2 separate regions of the Homo sapiens genome follow, and region 1 is linked to region 2. Evidence: fine-mapped QTL for protein levels in blood plasma. Region 2 holds a variant in brackets. A gene starts in the other region. All regions are shown on their reverse strands.

Evidence for each region. PIP is the chance, under the fine-mapping model, that this variant and not a neighbour inherited with it causes the effect. The UK Biobank Pharma Proteomics Project read protein levels with antibody pairs (Olink). The fine-mapping took linkage between variants from a reference panel, not from the people measured, so its PIPs are less certain.
Region 1: FABP9 starts here. The variant in region 2 is fine-mapped to the plasma level of the FABP9 protein (UK Biobank, PIP above 0.99).

What each region holds. Positions count from the first base shown.
Region 1 is chr8:81,458,640-81,474,169 of GRCh38, reverse strand. FABP9 (fatty acid binding protein 9) reads left to right here and starts at 12,591. Exons shown (of 4, transcript NM_001080526.2): 1 at 12,591-12,719; 2 at 14,833-15,005; 3 at 15,467-15,530. The coding sequence starts at 12,647. It overlaps LOC101927118 (a long non-coding RNA gene), which reads right to left and starts at 12,712. Exons shown (of 9, transcript XR_001745980.2): 1 at 12,196-12,712.
Region 2 is chr1:17,266,922-17,274,461 of GRCh38, reverse strand. It overlaps PADI3 (peptidyl arginine deiminase 3), which reads right to left. Exons shown (of 16, transcript NM_016233.2): 6 at 6,500-6,625; 7 at 4,051-4,229; 8 at 3,480-3,583; 9 at 3,284-3,395; 10 at 1,015-1,122. Among named protein-coding and RNA genes, the nearest start is that of MIR3972, 7.2 kb to the left of the region's middle. RefSeq lists an enhancer at 1-465 and a silencer at 3,522-3,765. The variant G/A (reference allele first, on the strand shown) is at 3,534.

The DNA of each region.
Region 1 (15,530 bases), not on the chromosome of region 2:
AAAACCTTTTATTTTAAGTTCAAGGGTACAAGTTCAAGTTTGATACACAAGTAAATTTGTGTTATTGGGGTTTGTTGAACAGATTATTTCATTAGCTAGATATTACGCCTAGTACTCATTAGTTATTTTTCCTGATCTTCTTTCTTCTCTCACCCTCCACCCTCTGAAATTCCCCAGTGTGTTGTTCCCCTATATGTGTCCATATGCAACACACTTTTAATAAGTGGATCAAAGAATTAATCAAAAGGGAAGTGTGAAAACACTTAGAATTGAATAAAAATGAAAACACAACATACTAAAACTTATGGGGTACAGTGAAAGTAGTGCTCAGGAGGAAATGTAGAGCTATAAATACTTAAATTAGCAAACAAGAAAGATCTCAAATAAAAAATGCAACTTTACAACTTAATGAACTGAGAAACAACAAAATAAACTCAAAGCTAGCAGAAGTCAGAAAATAATAAAAATTGGAGCAGAGATATACAAAAGAGAGATAGAGAAAACAGTAGAAAAAATCAATGAAACCAAGTTAATTCTTTGAAAATATTTAAAAAAAAAATTGACAGAGCCAGGTGCAGTGGCTCATGCATGTAATCCCAGCACCCTGGGAGGCCGAGGTGGGCAGATCACTTGAGGTCAGGAGTTTGAAACCAGCCTGGCCAACATGGCGAAATGCCATCTTTACCAAAAATACTAAAATTAGCCAGGTATGGAGGCACACACCTGTAGTCCCAGCTACTCGGGAGGCTAAGGCTGGACAATCGCTTGAACCCGGGAGGCAGAGGTTGCAGTGAACTGAGATTATGCCATTGCACTCTAGGCTGTGTGACAGCAAGACTCCATCTCAAAAAAAAAAAAAAAAAAAAAATTGACAGACATAAATGGACTAAGAATGAAAAAGAGGGAAAACTCAAATTATTAAAATCAGAAATGGAAGTTAGTATATTACTACCAATTCTACAGAAATAAAAATAATTAGAAGAAAGAACTATAAAAAATTGTACACAAATGAAATAACCTTACGAAATGGACAGATTTTGAGAAACACAAAACTTATCAAGACTAAATTATAAAGAAATAAATTTAAAAATCTGAATAGACCTATAGCTAGCAAGGAAATTTAATCAAAAAAATCTTTCAATAAAGAAAATCCCTTGACCTCCTGTCTTCACAGGTGAATTTTGCCAAATATTTAAAGAATAAGTAATATAAATTCTTCTCAAAAATTTTTCAAACTATTGAAGAGAAGGAGACACTTTCTAACTCATTATATGAAGCCAGCATTACCCTGATACCATATCCAGACAGAGACACTACAAGAAAATAAAACTACAGAGTAATATCCCTTATGAACATTGATGCAAAATCTTCAAGAAAGTACTAGTAACATAACCAAGCAGGACTTATTCCTGGAATTCAAGGATGGCTCAAAATATAACAATTGATTGATGTAATACATTCTATTAACACAATGGAAGGACCAAAACACACAATCATTTCAACTGATGCAGAAAAAGCATTTCACAAAATTCAACACCCTTTCATGATTAAAAAAAAAAAAAACTTTCAAAAAACTAGGAATAAAAGGAAACTACTTCAACGTAATAAAGGCCAATTATGACAAGCCCATAGCTAACATCACACATAATGGTGAAATACCTGAAGGTTTTTTTCTTTCAGATCAGGATCAAGGCAAGGATGCCAGCTTTCACCACTTCTATTCAGCATAGTACTGGAAGTCCTAGTTAGAGCAATTAGTCAAGAAAAATAAATAAAGGGGATCCAAACTGGAAAGAAAGAAGTAAAACTGTCTCCACATATGATCTGATCTTACGTGTAAAAAACCCTGAAGATTCCACACAAAATACTGTTAGGAAGAATAAATAATTTCAGCAAAGTTTCAGGTATAAAATTAACATAAAAATCAGTTGTAATCCTATACACTAACAATAAACAATATAAAGGAAATTTTGAAAAGAATTTCATTTACATCATTGAAAATAATAAAATATTTGGGAATTATTCAATGTGATAAAAACTTGTACAATGAAAGCTGCAAAATTTTGCTGAAATAAATTAAGACATAAATAAATGGAAAGACATCCTATGATTATGAATTGGAAGACTCAATACTGGTAAGATGTTAATACTACCCAAAGCAATCTACAGATTTAATGTAATCCTTTTCAAAATTTCAATGACATGTTTTGCAGAAATAGAAAAATCCATACTAATATTCATAACATTTCCAAGGACCCCCAAATGGCCAAAATGATCTTGAAAAAGAATGTATTTGGAGGGCTCAGACTCCCTGCTGTCAAAACTTATTTCCAAGCTATAATAACCAAAATAGTATAGTCTTGGCAGAAAGGTAGACACAAAGACTACCTTAGTCCATTTAGGCTATAATAAATCAATACAAACTAGGGAGCTATACATAATAGAAATTTATTTACCATAGTTCTTGAAGTTGGGAAGTCTAAGATTAAAGTGTTATTCAATGTCTGGGAAGGGTCCACTTACTGCCTACCCATTGTGTCCTCACATGGTGGAAGCAATAAGCTACTTCTCTGGGGTTTCTTTTATAAGGGCTTGAATCTCAATCAAGAGGGTTTCACTCTCATGATGTAATCAACTCCAAAAGGCTTTTCCTCCTAATACCATCAACTTGGAGGTTAACATTTCAACATACGAATTTTGGGGGCACACAAGCATTTAGACCATAGCAAAGAAGAAAACATAGAGCAAAAAATTCATTCCATTGGATTTGGCAGTGATTTCCTGAATATGACACAAAAGGGACAGGCAACAAAAGAAAAAATAGTCAAGTTGTACTTTATGAAAGTTAAACATTTTGTACATCAAAAGACACTATCAGCAGTGTGGAAAGGTAGACCTGGAGAAAATATTTGTGAATCATATCTCTGAAAAGGGATTAATACCCAGAGCAGCTGGGCACACTGGCTCATGCCTATAATCCCAGCTACTCACTTTGAGGCTGCAGTGAGCTATAATTCCACCACTGCACTCCAGCCTGGGTGACAGAGTGAGACCCCATCACTAAAAAAAAAAAAAAAAGAACATCTAGAGAACCTCTAAAACTCAACAAGAAGAAACAAACAACCTGATTTACAAAATGGGCCAAGAACTTGAATAGACATTTCTCCAACGAAGTTATATAAGGTAGGGTGTGGTGGCTCACACCTATAATCCCAGCACTTTGGGAGGCTGAAGAGGGCAGATCCTTTGAGGCCATGAGTTTGAGACCAGCCTGGCCAACATAATGAAACCCCATCTCTACAAAAAATACAAAAAAATTAGCTGGGCAAGGTGGTGCATGCTTGTAGTTCCAGCTGCTCAGGAGGCTGAGGCACGAGAATCGCTTGAGCCTGGGAGGTGGAGGTTGCAGTGAGCCGAGGTCATGCCACTGTACTCCAGCCTGAGTGACAGAGAGAGATTCTGTCTCAAAAAAAAAAAAAAAGAAGAAGATATATAAATGTCCAATAAGCATATGAAAAGATGCTCAACATCCCTGTGACTATATGAAGGGTAAGATATATTTATTTATTTATTTATTTATTTATTTATTTATTTATTTTTGTCCGTGGTTCTTGGCTCAGAACTCCCACAGCCTTGTTATTTCATAAGTAGCTAGGTATTCAGCCTTCTGTCTTTGATCCCTGAAGCAACTTCAGGAAAGTGTCAGAGCAATAAACATGAAGGACAGCGTTTTGTTACAATATTGGCCTCAGAAGCAGGCCTCAGAAAACAGAATCTCTGTCTCTCTCTCTCTCTGACCTTCTCCTGCCCTCCTTTCATATGCTCCTTTTGTGGCAGGCTAGGTCTCACTAATGCAGGCCTCCACTACAACTGTCCCAGCACTGACTGAGTAACAAGGTTAACCATTAAAAGATGATTGAGCCAGTGCCCGTATACAAAGGCTGGAGTGTAACAAAGAGCTCACCAAGAGTTTTTGCCTAGTCTTTTCCTGGGCCTTGAAGCATGACAAGATAATGAAGGAATTGTTAATAGGACCCTTTTAGGATTTAACAAGTTTTATTGGGGGTCTGAAGAAACTCCCCAGGCCTCCACAAAAAAGTTTATTGGTGTCTAAAGGAACTCCCCAAACCTTTATGATTTAGCGGGAGGCAAGATAAAGGTAATCACCCCAGCACCTAGATCCATTTAGATTCAGTAAACTTACTGAGGCTCCAGAAGAAGGTCTTCAGGACTCAGACCTTAGCTATAGATTAAAAGAAGTTAATCACTTATGTCTTTAGATGAATGCACATTTACACATAGACATATAGCTTAGAAGGTATAGAAGCTCTGGAAAACTTTGTTATTTTGAGTTGGTCTGGCAATAATTTCCAGGCCTTCTCTCTGTAACTGGTTACAGAAATTAAAACTTTCTTCCTCCCCACTTCTTCTGCATCTTGTTATGGGGCCAAGAGAAATGGCAGCTCAACCTTCAGTTTGGTCCGGGAACATTTTTTTCTCCCCAAGGCAGGTCATAAAAGCTAAAAATATACTCTCCTCTAACCCCACCACTCTGTGTTGGAGCTGGACATGAAAAAATGCTCTGACTTACCTTGTCTGATTGCAGGTCATCATAATAAAAAATCTCACAACAAAGATAATCTCTGGACCTCTTGGCGTCACAGGTGAATTTTACCAAACATTTAAAGAACGACACCAATCCTTCTCATATTTTTCCAAAATGTTGAAGAGAAGGAAACCGTTTTTAATTCATTCTAGTAGGCCAGCATTATCCTGATAGTAAGGCCAGGCAGAGACACTACAAGAAAGGGGTCCTGCTCCAGGGAACCAAAGAAGAACTAAACAGGTAGGCCTTGCTGGGTTTCCTCACTCAGTCTTTTGTATTATAATCATACTTTTTTGGTCCAATTACATTTCTACATTGTTGTCTGTGTTTCAATCATGACTGTCTGATGACATCTGCTTAAAGTCTGAAGAGATGGGTTACAGAGAGCTTCCAGTAGCTGAACACAGGAGGTTTCTGGAGGGTGGAGTACCTGGGGAGGCTTCATGCCCCTGACCCCATACCTCACCCTATGCATCTCTTCATCTGTATCCTTTGTAATATCCTTTATAATAAACCAGTAAACATAGTGTTTCTTTGAGTTCTGTGAGCTGCTCTAGTAAATTAATCAAACCCCAGGAGGCGGTCATGGAAACCCCAGCTTGAAGCCTGTTGGTCAGAAGTTCCAGCGGCCTGGACTTGCTACTGGTGTCTGAAGTTGGGGGCAGTCTTGTGAGATTGATTTTACCTCCAGGGAGATTGTGTCAGAATTGAATTGAGTTAGAGGACACTCAGCTGGTGTCTGCTGTAGAATTTATTACGAGCTTGTTGGTGGGGAGAAATCCCCACATATTTGGTCACAGAAGTTTTCAGTGTTGATTGTTGTAGTATGAGAGCAGAGGAAAAATAGTTTGTGCTTTTTCCACTCAGAATCACTAATTATTAGGAAAATGCAAATCAAAACCACAATGAGATTCCTTCTCACACCTATCAGAATAACGACTATTAACAAAAACTGGAAAATAACAAGTGTTAGCAAGGATGTAGAGAAATTGGAACCCTTGCATACTGTTGGTAGAAATGTAAAGCCACTGTAAAAAACAGTATGACAATTCCTTTAAAAATTAAAAATAGAATTACCATGTGATCCAGCAAGTCTACATCTGGATGTATACCCCCAAAATTGAAAGCAGGGTCTCAAAGAGATATTTGTACACCCATGTTTATAGCAAGTTATTCACAATAGCTAAAACATGGAAGCAACTCAAGCATCCATGGACAGATGCATAGATAAGCAAAATGTAGTATATAGATGCAATGAATTATTATTACTCAGTATTAAAAAGAAGGAAATTCTGACATATGCTACAACACAGATGAACCTTGAGGACATGATGCTAAGTAAAATAAGCCAGTGATGAAAGGGCAAACACTATATTATTTCACTTACATGAGGTACCTAGAGTAGTCAAAATCACAGATAGAATGTATTAATAGAACCATGGTTCCTAGGGTCTGTGGGAAAAGGGGAATACAAAGTTACTATTTAACAGGCACAGAGTTTCAGTTTTGCAAGATGAAAAGAGTTCTGGATATGGATGGTGGTGATGGTTGCACAACAATATGAATGTACTTAACACCACTGAAATGCATGCTTAAAATGGTTAAGATAGCAAATATTTTGTGTATTTTACCACAATAACTCTCCCACCAAAAAAAGGTGATTATATAACCAAAGGAGAAGGGAGAGTTAAAAAGAGTTAAAGGTGTACAAGTGGATGTCCCCGGCCCCTAAACCCAAATTTATCATGAGCAATTCCTTCCACCCTCTCCCTTAAACTTGTTCCTCATCCTCTTTTCCACATCTCAGCAACGTCAGAATGTTCCATCTTGTTTTTCATTTCAAAACTCTTAAAATCATTCTCGAATAATCCTCCTTCCTCACTCCATAACATTTACTTTATTTTTTAAAATATTGATTATATTAACTTCAAACTTCTTTACTATGTTTGCTTTTCTTCTTCCCACCACCCATATTACTGTAATTTTTTTCTTTAATTACTTCAGAGTTCTGTCTTTAGGTCTCTATTACCTCCAGTCTTTCCTAAGCCCTGTAGACTTTATGAATGATTAGATAATGGAAATCTGACTGGGACATTCACTGATTAAAACCTTTTAGTGACTCTCATTGTAGGCAGAAAAGGTCCAATCCTGTTAGCATGGCATGTGGAAGCTGTCTTATCCTTGCCTTTTTTAAATCTAACTCTCCAGTTTTATCATGTCTCTGTTCTCTTCACATTTCTTGCTTCCATCATACCAACATGCATCTTCTTTCTTGCCTCAAGGTTTCTGTTTGTTTTGTACTTTACATTCTGCTTCTTCCTGGGCAGAATTCATTTTTTCCCACTCCCTTCTTCTCAAGCCTTCCTCATCCCTAATGTTGCCTCTGTGCTAATCCTTTACAAAGTCCGTTTATGTAGGTATATTTGTGAATTTAGTCATTTTTGAAAATGTAGTCTTCAAGTCTAATTATTATTTTTCAATTGGTGTGGAATCATAGAATAAGAAGATCCAGTTCAATATAAATTTGATAGATAAGTCAAATTCACGTTCCTATATTTTCACCATAAAACTAAGTCCATAGATACATCCAAGAAAGATCTTCAAGTAACAGCTCCCCAATTTATCCCATTTATCTTGCCTGGGATCTCTGTGAAGCTCATATAATTTTCCACTTTTTGACATTGTTTCTATCAATACATACATAAAGGCATAGAGGACACTGTACTCTGAAAGGAAGAGAGGCAGGATTAAGTGAGTACCTCTCCAAAACCCACAGTGTGGTCATAGAGTCCACCTATATCTTGAAGCAGATATGAATAGTCCAAAAAGCCAGTCACTCCCTCTTTAGAAACACAGGATCAGGTTAAGTAATGAGCTGGCTATCCCCTCTTCCCTAATTCCCACTCTAGCCATCAAAGGGCTACAATTTCTGATTTAGATATACTCCTTTCAAAGTCTGAAGCATTACTGACCTCAGTTTTCATGTAAAAATTACTTGTCAGTTTTCAGCAGATGACCCAGCCTCTTGCTTAGAACAGTGATTTTTTTCCCCAGTGTCTCCAGTACTAAAAGATGAGGAATGACTAAAGATCTGTTCCTGATTGAAGGAGACTAAAGAGACATGATGGCTGAAAGCAACGCATGATCACGGACAGGATTCTGGGTCAGAAAGGCTGGGTTTTTTCCCTTTTTTTTAGTAGGAAAAGGAAAAACTGTCAGGACAATTGGTAAGGTTTGAGTGGGGTCTGTGGATTAGATAGCAGTATTGCCATCAGTGTTGATTTCCTGATTGAGATCCTTGTTTGGAGAGGAGTGGGGCAACATTTCTCAACTTACTCTCAATGACTGAGCAACAAACAGCTTGCTTCTTATGAAGAGAGAGAGGGAGGGAGGGAGGGAGAGAGATAGAGAGAGGTAGGGACAAAAGTGTTGGAATGTTGACAATTGTGAAATCTGGGCAAAGAGTATATATGGGAGTTTTCTGTGTTGTTCGGGAAGTGTTTTTGTAATTATTTCAAATTTAAAAGGTAACCAAAAAAAACCTCAACCAAATAGAATAAAGTTAGGGGAAGAAGGTGGCATGAAACAAGAGAAAATATCAATTGCCAAAAAATGAATTTGCCTAAAAATTCTTTACATGTTAATAAATATGATATGCATAACTCCTTAGAAAGAAATTGCTATTTTTTAGCGAAGACTTGGACTAACCCAAATGCCCATCAATCATAGACTGGATAAAGAAAATGTGGCACATATACACCATGGAATACTATGCAGCCTTAAAAAAGAATGAGTTCATGTCCTTTGCAAGGACATGGATGAAGCTGGAAGCCATCATTCTCAGCAAACTAACACAGGAACAGAAAACCTAACACCACGTGTTCTCACTCATAAGTGGGAGTTGAACAATGAGAACACATGGACACAGGGAGGGGAACATCACACACTGAGGCCTGTCAGGGGGTGGGGGCCAACGGGAGGGAGAGCATCAGGACAAATACCTAATGCATTCAGGGCTTAAAACCTAGATGACAGTTGATAGGTGCAGCAAACCACCATGGTACATGTATACATATGTAACAAACCTGCACATTCTGCACATGTATCCCAGAACTTAACGTAAAATTAAAAATAAAAAAAAAAAGGAACAGTCCTACTACAGGTGAATTTTCAAGGTGGTCAGCCGCCTCCATATGCTCTTAAATAGTGAGCACTTCAAATAAATAACCTTCACCAAAAACAAAAGAAAGAAATTGCTATTTTTATATATACCTATTAAGCAGTAAATAATAGATAAGAGATGGACTTATTTTGTAACTAGTAAAAATAAACTGGAAGTTGTCATATTAAAACAATTACTTGCTCAGAGTTAATTTGGTATGGTTGTTTTAAGTAAAATTTTTATTATAAGTGAAGTGATCCAGAAGTAAAAACAATGTAAAAATTCTCTTATAAGCCCCATATATAAAAAAATTATTGGAAAAAGTGATGTTTTAAAAAAATATATCTTTTATGTTAAGCAAATAGTCTCTTGAAATTATAACATCAATTCCTCTAGTGTAGAAAATACTAGCAAATGGAAGACTATTTCAATGACAAATATCACATTCAGACTATTAACCAAAGTTAATTTCAAAATACTTGTTTTCCTTATTGGATAATATAATATCGTCTTAAAAAGAAAAATTTTAAATAATTACTTTTCAGAGTCCTAGATTAAATGTACACTTTGAAAAGTCATTATATTATTGCATCTTTAAAATTGAAATTGAATGATGAACACAGTAAGGAATATGATACTTAGAGGTGTCACTGCATGTGGAAATAAGAATCTTAGATGCTTTATCAAATCCAGCTAAAGTACTATATGTGCAACAATAAATTATCAGACATATTTCTGAATACTTGTGTAGCTTCCAGTATATGTTTAACTTTACCAGTATCCATCATCAGTGGCAACCATAGCATCTCAAAATTAAAAATTATTCAAAACTACTTGATGTCTTAAAATGTCACAAGAAAATCAATATAGAAAATGAGATGCTGAAAGTTCATAGAAAAATGACATATTGGAGAAATGAGCCTTGAAACTGTCATAAGAACAAGACATGTAACTATTCTATAACAAACTACAGTATTCTAGTTCCTTTACTAGGATTAACATTAGGAACAATCTGATTAAAAATTTTTTTTCTACTTGAGGAAATGGTGTTCACTTTTTTTATATAATCAAACCAAAGTGCCAAAGGCTAGCGGTGGTAGCAACAGAAATAGCAGAGAACTTTCTTAGTTGAGAAGGGAGACTTGTGCTATATAACTGAGAAAGATGAAGAGAGTCTGAGCATCCCTCCACCATCTGATAATGACCAGAATAAAAGGCCTGTCATAGGACCAGGTCAGGAGAAGATAATGTACTAAAACTCTGTCTTTAGTCACTGTTAGAGAGATAAAGAACACTAATGAGAATTACCAGTTAAAAAAAATACTACTTATTTCTTTGGTCACTCATCCATAAAACATTTATTGAACACTTATGATATGCCAGATACTGTCTTAAGGATACAGAAGTGAGTGGAAAATATTTTCTTTTTTTGATATACTCATAGAATAGCTCAGGAGACAGCTGGGAAATAGCTCTTTGCAGTACTATGAAATAAGCTAATATACTTCTCTTAAACATTTATTTCTATCTTCACGCCATGGGGATTATCTAGCTCTGAACCAGTGTCACAGGGAAAGAGATGTTTGAGTTGGTTCAGGAAGATGGGTCTCTGCTGTCATGAGGCCAGCTCTATGTGATTCATGCAACTGGTTGTTGTGAAGGTCCAAATTCACCATTTGGTGAAGCTATTTACAAAGGCGTAGTAATTATGAAGACTTCTTCTACAAGTAACAAAAGCTCAGAGACAAAACTGTTTAAATAAGAATGGAATTTATTAACTAACATAATATAAATTTTTGAAATAAAGTGGCCTTCAGTTCCTTCCACGTTTCTGCTCTGCTATCCTCAGTTCTGGCCCCATCTTTGAGGAGGTAACACAATGGATGCAGCACTTGTAAATATCACGTGAGATAGAAAAATGTGTAGAGGCAAAAGAGAGACTGTCTCTCCCTTTGGTTCTCTCCTAGGGGTGGGGAATTTTACAGAAGCCAGAATTTTTATTTTATTTTATTTTAAGTTCTGGGATACATGTGCAGAACGTACAGGTTTGTTATATAAGTAAATGTGTGCCATGGTGGTTTGCTGCACCTATCAACCCATCACGTAGGTATTAAGCCCCACATGCATTAGCTATTTATCCTGATGCTCTCCCTCCCCCCATAGCCCTGGCCCCAACAGGCTCCAGTGTGCATTGTTCTCCTCCTTGTGTCCATGTGTTCTTACTGTTCAGCTCCCACTTATAAGTGAGAACATGAGGTGTTTTTCTCTTCCTGCGTTAGTTTGCTGAGGATAATTGAAACCAGAAATCTGATGTTAGCTTTTGTCTCATGGGCCAACTGAGTTCTAAACGGACCACAGGAATATCATTCTATGACAGGAGAATCAAAACAACAAGGAAGATTATGCTGATGGGAGACCTTTGCTACACTACCCAGCTGGCCAACAGGCATAGCAATGTATGCTTGCTTTCTTTAAAGCAGAGAGTGCATACACATCTCGAACCAGTTAAGCAAACGTTTAACAACTTGCTCTATATTTGAACATCACCTCTGAATGCACTTTCAACTGCTGAGGCACTTATTTTGAGCTTGGGTCTTAGTTTCCTGAAATTAACTCCAGGATTTTCACTTACCCTGTTTTGCACTGTAGATAATTTAATAATTGTCCCACCCATAAAGATATCACATTATATGTTTCTTCTTTATATGTTTTCATCAAAAGCCATCCTTTATTCCACTTAAGTTATTGTTTTACAGTACCAAAATATCAACCTCCTGTTTATTTTGTTCACAAACAATATTTTCTGAATTAAATAAATACTTCATACAAAGCAGGTAAAAATATAAATATTCTTCTTCTGGTCCCTGACACTAACTTTCCAACATCTTCTAAAGTTAACTGGAGTTCAAAACCGTAATGTAAATCAACAGCTACTGAATCTACTCCTTCTTACTAAACTCAGTACCTGCAAAGTCCACTTCCATTATTGGGGTTGCAGAAGATGGTTTCAGAAGTAATGGCACAGAGATTGAAACCATTTGCTGCCTTTGTCTTTCTTTTAGAATGCAGATTCCAAACATCTTTTTCTATATGAAACTTGCCAAAATTTTTTCTTATAATTTAAAATATCTTTTAATGTAGAGTTTACTTTGTAAGCCTGAAAGACGAATTTTGTAGGCATTCGCTCTGCTTCCTTTTCAGAGCTTAAATCATATACTATTATCCAATGATAATTGTCACCTTTCTTTCCTGTCCTCAATTACCTTCGATTAACAACAATGATAATATATTAATAATACCCTCCATTTCCCTCCAAGCAATTATAGGCATTTTAGTTACATTAACTAATATCAACCCATCAACCCTGTAAGGAAGGGAAGGGAAGATATTATTTTAATGAAGAGGATGTTTGAGCACTGTGACTTACCCAAACAAAAAACAGCTGAGGTGGACCAAGCAAGGATTTCTTGTCTTAGGTAGGAAAACATCTCAGCCAGGTGTTTATCAATTTGTCAGGATATTCCTCCAGGGTTGACTCAGTATTCATTGTTCAAAAAGCTGATGTCTATTGAAGATTGTCTCCGTTCCACAAGTAATATTTGTCAGGTGACTTGGGTGTAAATCTTTTTGCTAGAAGCTAAAATCATTGACCAGAATTTAATTTTACATGCTAATTTTCTGTCTCTTAATTTGGAGGTAAATAAAATGAGTCAAATGCTGGTGCCTAGAATCTTTAGTCTTGCTGCTGTTGCCCATTGGCCATTTCAGAAGAGTCACGTGATGAAGACGCTCTTTAAATTAAACTACTGGCAGCACCGTAATGCCTATATTTCTTTGGTTTTCAATTACGAGTGGCTCTTCTCAGCAAGTGTTCCATGATGGTTGAGCCCTTCTTGGGAACCTGGAAGCTGGTCTCCAGTGAAAACTTTGAGGATTACATGAAAGAACTGGGTGAGAAATACCATTACAAATTTGGAAATTGGCAAAGCATTTTGTGATGTGATTGGGTTTGTACTTTACCATGAATTTTCCTACAATTATCTTCCTTTTGTGATCCTAGGGTATATAGACTAACACAATGTATGCTTCTACTTTTGCTTTTTTAAATTACTAGTAATAATTGTCTCTTTTTGGAAGACTAGGCCCACAGACACCTCTGTCCAGTCATGATCCATATATTTAAGCCCATTTATCCTTTTTGAAAATACTTCACCTAACTTCTAGATAGAATTTCATTTTAGCTTGGTCATTTCATTTAATAACATTTTTCCCAGCTTCAAATTTATAGACAGTAATCACTACCTACAATTAAATTGATCAATTAAATTTGTTTCAAGGTTTAAGTTATAGCTTTAAAACAGCAGTATCAACTAACAAAATTTCTAGTTGGTTAATTTTTAGAGTTCTCATAAATGTGAGAGATATTTTATAAACATGGTTTTGAAGAATTACAAATCTGAAGAAACACAACATTTTTACTCATTGAATGTCTCACCACTGGATATTCCTCAGAATTATAAACCCTACCAATCCTTTAATCTCTAACTCAAGTCATTTAGTTACACATTAATTATAATGACTTGGGTGTATAATAGCTAAACTGTTCTTTACTAATGGAAGAACAGCAATTATTTCATATTTTTCATATTTAATTAAGAGAAACCTCCCTTGTAGTAAACTGTATACAAAGCCAAGGACTTTCTTATCTTTACTTTTTTTTAACTTACATAACATGCTTAATGGATGCTTACAATTATTAATTATGTTTACTCATTCTAGACAATGAAATAACAATGCCTTATCCCCATAATAAGTCAATGTGCTTATAAATGTAATATTTGTTCCTCTGATGTAGTCAATATTCACTTTCTCAGAGGGTCATAAGAAACAAGTTTTTCTGTCTCTTCATAGATTTATAGACTCACTTGTTTTGAATAAAAATTGGGGGGGTATATAAAAAACTTGGGCCTTATGGCCAGAGTAGCACTTGTGTTGACTGGGAGCTGGGTTTAGGCATAATACAAGCAAGAATAACAGCTGAGCAGTTTCTATGTGCCAGTACCATGCTAACCCCTTTCATTTAACCTTTTAAAACATCCGCTGGCTGGGTACAGTGGCTCAGGCCTCCAATCCCAGCACTTTGGGAGGCCAAGGCAGGTGGATCACCTGAGGTCAGGAGTTCGAGATCAGCCTGGCCAACATGGTGAAACCCCATCTCTACTAAAAATACAAAAATTAGCTGGGCATGGTGGCATGTGCCTGTAATCCCAGCTACTCGGGGGGCTGAGGCAGGAGAATCGCTTGAACTTGGGAGGCAGAGGTTGCAGTGAGCTGAGATTGTGCCACTGCACTCCAGCCTGGGCAACATAGCGAGACTCTGTCTCAAAACAAAAAACAAACAAACAAACAAACAAAAAAAAAACTTGCGAGGTCAAGTATACAGTTATCCACACTTTACTATTGAGAAAACTGAAGGTTAGGAGAGGTAAATAATATGCCCAAGCTAGCAAGTGGCCAAGTTAGAGCCTGGGTTTTAACCATCTCACTCTTCTTTGTGATGCAGATGTCTAACACTGCTTCTCTACAGTAAGATGTGTCATATCAGTTCCACAATCTAAATGTGAAATGGAGTTTGATATCAGGACAGAGAAGGAGTCAGCTCTTCTGCCCACCAACTGCAGGAGTCAAGTTTGACAATGGGAAATTCCCAACCAAACCACAGGGCCAGGCTCTAAGTCAAACTCCTCCCGCACCCACAAGGTTATCGTAACACTCCACAAGGTGAAGTGCAAGCATTTGATCTCTTGAAAGGCACCATACAAATTTACATTTTAGAGGAAGTGTAATAGTCTCAGAGAGTGAATTTAGCTTTTCAAAATGTCACATATATACCTTATGACTGGGAGGATCTAGCTCAGCCCTGATATCACAGAAAACATAAAATAAGTTACTATACATTATCCAAAATTTCAAAATAGGTAAAGTAAGCATTCTTTGAAAATTGACTTCCAGAGTGATTGTTAACAATGTCTTAATAAGGTCCAAGGCTATCTCTGTCTTGTAGGAGTGAATTTCGCAGCCCGGAACATGGCAGGGTTAGTGAAACCGACAGTAACTATTAGTGTTGATGGGAAAATGATGACCATAAGAACAGAAAGTTCTTTCCAGGACACTAAGATCTCCTTCAAGCTGGGGGAAGAATTTGATGAAACTACAGCAGACAACCGGAAAGTAAAGGTCAGAACTAATTCTTCCTGGTGTTCAACAATCAGGAAAAAGTTAGAAGGTGGTTAGGCATGGTTTACTGTAATTTGATTTATCACCAAGTCTGTCTGGGCTTGTTCTGTTAATAGTCGCACATCTCTAAAGTTAATCCTTTTGCTAATTATTTTGATGGTTAACAATAGGGCTAAAAGATTCAAATTGTTTTCATTTCATTTTTTCTTATCTCTTTGTCATATGAAAGAGCACATAGAAAGAAACAACTAAACACAAATAGCTTATGCATTGTTTGCCTAGGAAAGAGCACTAATTGAATAATCTCTTGAGACTTCTAGTTTGATAGTACTACATCATGACAACAAAAGTGAGGATTTTAAGAAAAGAATTTCAAAATAGAAATTAAAAAGTAGATATGTGGTCTCATGTAGGTTAGAAGGTAGTGAGTTGCTACTTCTGATTTCTTTATGCATTTATAGAGCACCATAACATTAGAGAATGGCTCAATGATTCACGTCCAAAAATGGCTTGGCAAAGAGACAA
Region 2 (7,540 bases):
ACGCATAGCAGGCAAAGTCGGGAAGTGCTCGGACTCTCTGGCCCTGCTGCCTTATCACGGCAAGACAGCAGGGGGCGCTCCGGTTGCTCCTGCACTCCCCATCGGACATGGAGCCTGAGGCCATGGCCACTCCATCCCCTTACCTACACAGCCTTCCTGCAAGTTCAGCCCAAGGGCAAGTAGCAGCTCAAGTGGCCAATTGTGGGAACCAAGAGGCTGCTGATGGCCCTCTGGGCCTCTGTCTTTGAACTCTAGAGAAGGGGAGACCTCCCCAGGGCTATCTCTCAGAAGCAACTTCGACAACATCAAGGGTCAGGAGAGAGAGCTCCTAGCATCTGTGTGATCAGTGAGGGGGTTGGAGGGGTCTCTTGTTCTTTACGGCACCAGGCAAGTCACTCTTGTTTTCTCAAGAGGTCCTCGTTAGCAATCATCACCTTCCCTGTTATCCTTTTTCTTAAAATAATGATACTAGCTAATAGTGGTGCGCGCACACACACTCCCTCCATGCAGGTACTGTGATGATGAGATGCTTCACAAACCCCTGTGAGGCCAGGGCCAAAATGTCATTTTTACTGATGAGGAAACTGAGGCTCAGAGAGCGGTAGTAACTCACGCAACATCACACAGCATGTAAGTAACGGAACAGGGTTGGTCTGACCCTAAAGCTTGTGCTCTGAACAGGTGCACCATCCTGCCTCCCCTATTTAGGGCTGCCAGATTCAGTAAATAAAAATACAGGATGCCCAATTAACTTTGAATTTTAGATAAACGACAACTTTTTTAGTGTAAGTATATCCCATGCAATATTTGGGACGTACTTACACCAAAAAGTTAACCTGTTGCTTGTCTGAAATTCACATTTGACTGGGCATCCCTGCATTTTATCTGGCAACCCTACCCTCATCCCTAAAGAGCACGGTTCCCACTGCTGCCCTCTGTACCCCACACCCCGGTGTGGCCCCTGGGGTAAGGCCTCTCAGCTCTCAGGGGTGGGCTGCGGCCGGGACCACTCACCAGGATTCTTTTGTAAGGGAAATCCTGCAGTTCCCCATTCCTTGGGGAGTCAAAGACCACCGGGAGGGTCTTGTGCGGCGCCTGAACGTAGCCCAGCTCCATCTCATCCTGCAAGTGAGGAGAGGCGAGAGACGCACAGCTGTGACAGTCAACAGCTGCCCCTGCTGGCTCGGCTCTGAGCCCTGTGGGGCAGACTGCTCACCAAGTCCCCTGGCCCAAGCATGTTTTGTGCTTGGAGGCGGACAGGACCGAGGTCAGGGTGCCTGCTGACTGGAGGAGGGGCTGGAGGCTCAAGGAGGGGGTGCACTTGTCTAAGGTCACACAGCAAGACAGAGGCCGGAGGTGAACGAGAACATGGACATGACCTTGGGGGTGTCCCTGTGAGTACTGGGCCAAGGCAGGTGGACACAGAGAAGCACTCACAGTGGCCTGAGTTGGATCCATAAATGTGCCCAGGTCAGTCCTGACCCCTCTGGTTCTGGAGGAAAAGATGGCCCAGTGTGAATGAACTTCACATCCAGGTCCTGCCCTAAACTCTTTATAAACATTAACTCCATTCATCCTCATGACATGCCTGGGCGTGGGCACCATAATTATCCCATGTGACAGATGAGGAAAATGAGGAACTAAGAGGTCTAATTATTTATCCAGTCCGGGCACGGTGGCTCACACCTATAATCCCAGCACTTTGGGAGGGTGAGGCGGGAGGATTGCTTGAGGCCAGGAGTTTGAGACAACCCTGGGCAACATGGCAAGACCCCATCTCTACAAAAAATTAGCTGAGCCTGGTGGCTGCACCTGTGGTCTCAGCTACTCGGGAGACTGAGGCAGAAGGATCACTTGAACCCAGGAGTTCCAGGCTGCCAGTGAGCTGTGATCATGCCATGGCACTCCAACCAGGGTGACAGAGAGACACTGTCTCCAAAAAGAAAAATAAATTCAAAATATATTAATTTAAAAAAATAAATAAAAATTAAAAAATATTTGTCCCAAAGCTCACAGCTAGTTAGTTGGTGGCACAGCCAGGCTCTAAACCCAGCCCATCGTGCCCCAGAGTCCTGCCCCAAACCCTCTCACTGGACTGACCTCCGGCCAAGAGGAAAGCTCCTTAACTTGGAATTCAAGGTCTCCGACCTCAACCCTTGCCTTTCTCAGAACCAGTGCCCTGACAGAGGAGAACACACAAGGTTCTCTCTCCTGCCTCCCACCCCCGGGCCTTTGCGCATGCTCGGTCTCTGCCAGGACCACCAACCTGTACAGCCTGGTGCTTGGCAGCCTGAGTCCTAGCACTGCCTTTACCAGCTCTGTGGCCCAGTCATGCTCCCCTAAGAGCTCCTGAATTATGGGGGACTTACAGGGGGTTATCAAGAAGATGAAATGATGCTATGCCTGGCCTGCAGAAAATGGGGCATAAATGGCAGAAGTCATGTGCCCTCATCTGCCAAATCTGGTCCAGCTCAGATGCTCTCCCTCCTGGAGGTCTTCACTGATTCCCTGGGCAGAGGTGATGCTGCATCCCCCAAACCCTACTGGTGCTTTGCTGGTATAGCCTCTGCACCCTAGATATTTCTTTTTCTCTCTCTCTCTCTCTCTTTTTTTTTTTTTTTTTTTGTTGTTGTTGCTGAGGCTGGAGTGCAGTGGCACAATCACAGCTCTCTGCAGCCTTGACCTTCCTAAACTCAGGTGATCCTCTGACCTCAGCCTCCAGAGTAGCTGGGACTACAGACACACGCCACCATGCCCTGCTAATTTTTTAACTTTTTTGCAGAGACAGGGTTTCACCATGTTGCCCCAGCTACACACTAGATAGTAGGAGTAGGTATTTTTGTAGCAATCATTCTGCACATCAAGGTTTCTCAGCCTCGACACTACTGAGGCGTGGGACTGGATGATATGTTATTGTGGGGGCTTGTCCTGCGCACTGTCTGCAGATACTGCAAAACGTCTCCTGGGGACACATCGCCTCTTGATGAGAACCACTGGTCTCAGCTGTTGAGGGCAGGGAGTGTGTGTCTCACACCTGTGCCACCCCTGTGGGCCTAGCCTAGTGCCTAGCCCAGATCCGGTGGGTGAATGGGTGTTGAATCCAGGATCAGCGTGGGTCTCCAGAAGGTTCTGGAGAGAAGCCTCTAGGTCTCACATTAGAAACGGCAGCAAGTTCCCTGGGGAGCACCCAGGTCCTCCTGGATGTTTCTCGGTGGCCCCCAAATGAAGGCCTCTCTCTCCAGGATGGCGTCCTTGCTGGGCCCTGCCCAGTGGCTGTGGTTACCTGGATCCAGCGGTCGTTGCGGTTCTCGGCCTGTGGGCAGATGGTCAGCTTGCAGCCGGCCTTCCTGGCCAGCTCTGCCACCGCATCCACAAAACACGTGTTGTTCCTCACACTACGGACAAGCCCAGGGAAGAGGGGCTCAGGATGGAGCCGGGGCCTGGGGGCCAGAGGGACCACCCACTGCCCCAAGACTCACCGGCACACATACACCTCTAGGGGTGGCAGAGTGCTGGGCGTCATGATCCAGGGT[G/A]CCACTCGGAACACCACAGTGTCAGTGAAGATAGGGGATGCCGAGAAATCCTGCAGGGGCAGACCAGGGGAGAAAGAGCACTGGACTTGGAGTCCAGAGGCCTGGGGGGACTCTGATTCCACCACTGTGGTCCATAAGAAAACCCCTTGCTTCTCTGCAAGATGGAAATGAACCAGAGGGGTGGTCAAGAAGTCTGGGGTCTTTCACACCAGTGGTGCCTGGTAGACTTACCAGGAATGGAGTCCTCCCCACTGCCCTTTATTATTATTATTTTTTGGAGACAGGGTCTTACTTTGTTGCCCAGGCTGTGGAGTGCAGTGGGGTGATCATGGCTCACTGCAACCTCAACCTCCCTGGGGTTCAGGTGATCCTCCCACCTCAGCCTCCCAAGTAACTGGGACTATAGGTGTACACCACTATACCTCGCTATTTTTTTTTTTTTTGTAGAGATGGGGTTTCACCATGTTGCCCAGGCTGGTCCCGAGTGGAGCTCCTCTTGAACCCCCTCTGTCCCTACCTCGTTGGAGTCGTCCAGCAGAGTGACATGGAAGGAGATGAGTCCTGTGAAGCCGGCATCAGGGAAGGACAGGCCTTCCACGAAGAAGCGCTCCTCATCCCCATGCAAGCGGGGTACCTCATAGGACACCTTATCTTGGCCCAGCACATGCCTATAGGCCTCACACACATCCTCAGGACCTGGAAGGGGAGGGACGGGGTGGCTGTGACTCCCTGTGGGCCCAGGGAGCATGAGTATGAGGGACACAGGAAGAGGTCTGCAGCCTCACCAAAAATTCCAAGTCCTCCAACAACTCCCTCCTTTCACCTCCACTGGCAAAGGAGAGGACAGGTAATACACAGTGGGGGCCACGGCTGGGGGAAAGGGTCTTCCTTTCTAAGACTGGCGCTCATACCTTTTTGGAGCACAATTTGGCAGCATCCAACAAAGTAATGTTTACCCCAAGCCCAGCAATTCCACTGCTAGGTATCTTTCCTACAAAAATACATCTACAGGCTGGGCACGGTGGCTCATGTCTGTAATCACAGCACTTTGGGAGACCGAAGGCGGTGGATCACCTGAAGTTAGGAGTTCAAGACCAGCCTGGCTAACATAGTGAAACCCTGTCTCTACTAAAAATACAAAAATTAGCCGGGCGGTGGTGGTGCACACCTATAATCCCAGCTACTCAGGAGGCTTAGGCAGGAGGATTGCTTGAACCCAGGAGGCGGAGGTTGCAGTGAGCCAAGATCACACCACTGCACTCCAGCCTGGGCATGGAGCGAGAATCCATCTCAAAAAAAACCAAAACCAACAAAAAACAAAACAACAACAACAAACAAACAATAATAGGTACAAAGTCACATAATATTTCTGTACAAGAGTGCTCGATATTCATTAATTCATCAAATATTTACTGTGCAACTACAGTGCACCCATGGGGCACGGTTCTGGACTTGAACAAAGCCCCTGACCTCAAGCAACCTGCATTGTTATAAAATCAAAACACTGCAAACCACTATGATGTTCAGAGAACTGTGTAAGTCACAGCACCTCTATGCTTAGGAATATTATACAGCAGTGGAAAAGAATGAAGTAGAGCTCAATAAATACCAGAAAAGGTGTGTGGGATTATTACTTAATGAAAGAAGCCGGTTGGAAAGCAGCATATGGACACACGCTGGAGAACATGTAGAATAAAGTTGGGAAGCACACATCCCAACTCGTTAACAGTGACAATCAGATTCAGGCCAGGTGCGGCGTCTCACGCCTATAATCCTAGTACTTTGAGAGGCCAAAGCGGGTGGATTGCTTGAGCCCAGGAGTTCACGACCAGCCTGGGCAGCATGGTGAAACCCTGTCTTTACAAAAAAAAAAAAATTAGCAGGGTGTGGTGGTACATGCCTGTAGTCCCAGCTACTCGTGAGGCTAAGGTGGAAGGATTGCTTGAGCCTGAAAGGTGGAGGCTGCAGTGAGCTGAGATCATGCCACTGCACTCCAGCCCGGGCAACAGAGCAAGACCTTGACTCAAAAAAAAAAAAAAAAAGTCAGATTTAGAGACGGGTAGAGAACTCTCAGGTTTCATTTTCTATACTTCCATATTGTCTGATTATTTAAAAAATAAGCGGCCAGGCACGGTGGCTCACGCCTATAATCCCAGCACTTTGGGAGGCCGAGGCGGGCAGATCACAAGGTCAGGAGATTGAGACCATCCTGGCTAAGACAATGAAACCCTGTCTCTACTAAAAATACAAAAAATTAGCTGGGTGTGGTGGCACATGCCTGCAGTCACAGCTACTTGGGAGGCTGAGGCAGGAGAATCGCCAGAACCCAGGAGGTGGAGGTTGCAGTGACCCGAGGTCACGCCACTGTACTCCAGCCTGAGCAACAGAGCGAGACTCTGTCTCAAAAAAAAAAAAAAAAAAAAAAAAAAAGCATCTTATTACTTGTATACATTTTTAGTTTCTCAAAGGCATTTAGATTTTTACTTGTATTTCTTGTGATTTTGGCAGACTATGTAAAACAACAGCCATCTATATTTGGGGGGAATACAAACTGAATTAATTGGGTGAAATCTATGGTGTTTGGGGTTGGTTTTACAAAACTTCAGCGAGACAGACAAAACAGTGATAATTGTTTAATCTGAGTGACAGGCACATGGGGATTCACAGCACTGCTTTTTGTGTATGTTTGAAATTTTTGATAAGAATTTCTACACATGCTTAAAATGTATTTGAAAAGGTCATTCATCAAATAAAATGACCTCAGGCCAGGTGTTGTGCTGGGGGCACCAGTTCATCAGTTCCAAAGCCCCCACTTCTGACTGTTCTTACTGCGACCCGCCACCCACCAGGGCATCTCCCGGAGTGTAAGCAGGACCTGCCCATGGCCCAAGGCAGGAACAGGAGGTTCCCTGGTAGGCAACCTGGCAACAGGGCACAGATGGCAAGGGGCAGTGGCACAAACTCACCGCAGATGTGGAAGACCTGTGCCCGTTTGGCATCATAGCTGGAGGTATGGAGGACAAGTTTGTGGTCATCAAAGAGGGCTGCAGGGCCCTGCGTCCGCAGGACCATGACAGACATGTCTTCCAGGTCTGTGAAGCCAGACAGAGTGGTAGTGACTCAAGGGAGTCCTGGCCCCTGGCCCCTTCCTCTGCTGCCCAGCTCCCTCCCCAGGTCAGTGGGTATCAAGACCTGGGTCTCCCAGCCCTAGCTTTGTGAAAACCCTGGAAGCCATCAAGAACAAACCATGAAGACATCTATGCTCTCCTGGACTCATGTTTCCTCAATTGCCCAGAGAAACATGAAGTGTGGCATAGCCAGCTGGTGTCTGACACACAACAGGTGCTCCAGAGAAGCAAGGAGGGTAAGGCCATGTGGGCGTCGTGCAGGTAAGGGTTCTGGCCTCCATCCCAGCATCACTCCCTGTGACCCTGGACAAGCCCCTCCCTTCTGGAGCCCCAGCATCCCCATGTCCAATGGTGCCCACTTCAGAAGGCAACCGTGGGCATCTCCCGTGGACAGCACCTAGCATACCCTGGAATATTGCAGCTCATTCTCCATGGGGCTGGAATTCAGGACAGATGGACTTAGCAAGAGGTGGGGGAGTCACAGAAATGTAGGCCAGAGGTGCTGAAGGAGGAGGCCCAGATTTGGGGTTGAGAGGGGAGGCCCCAGATCAGACACAGTCTTCAGGGAGTCTCCTGGCTTCTGAGTCTCAGCATCCTCATCTCTAAATTGGGGTGATGATATTGTCCCACTTGGATGATTCAATGAGAATTTGGGGAAAAGGCCTGGCACACAGTAGGTGCTCAAATAATGCTAGCATCCTCTGCTCCCCTGGAGGAAGAGAATGGCGAGGTGGCTCATTTCCAGAGCTTCTGCCCTGGCATGTGAGTGCTCACTGGCCCTAGAGACACTAGGGAGGGGCAGCTGCCAGCCTGAGATGGGTTTTGAGGAGCATCGAGGTGTGTCTGGAGGCTGGCGCTCTCCCCTGGACTCTGGCCTCA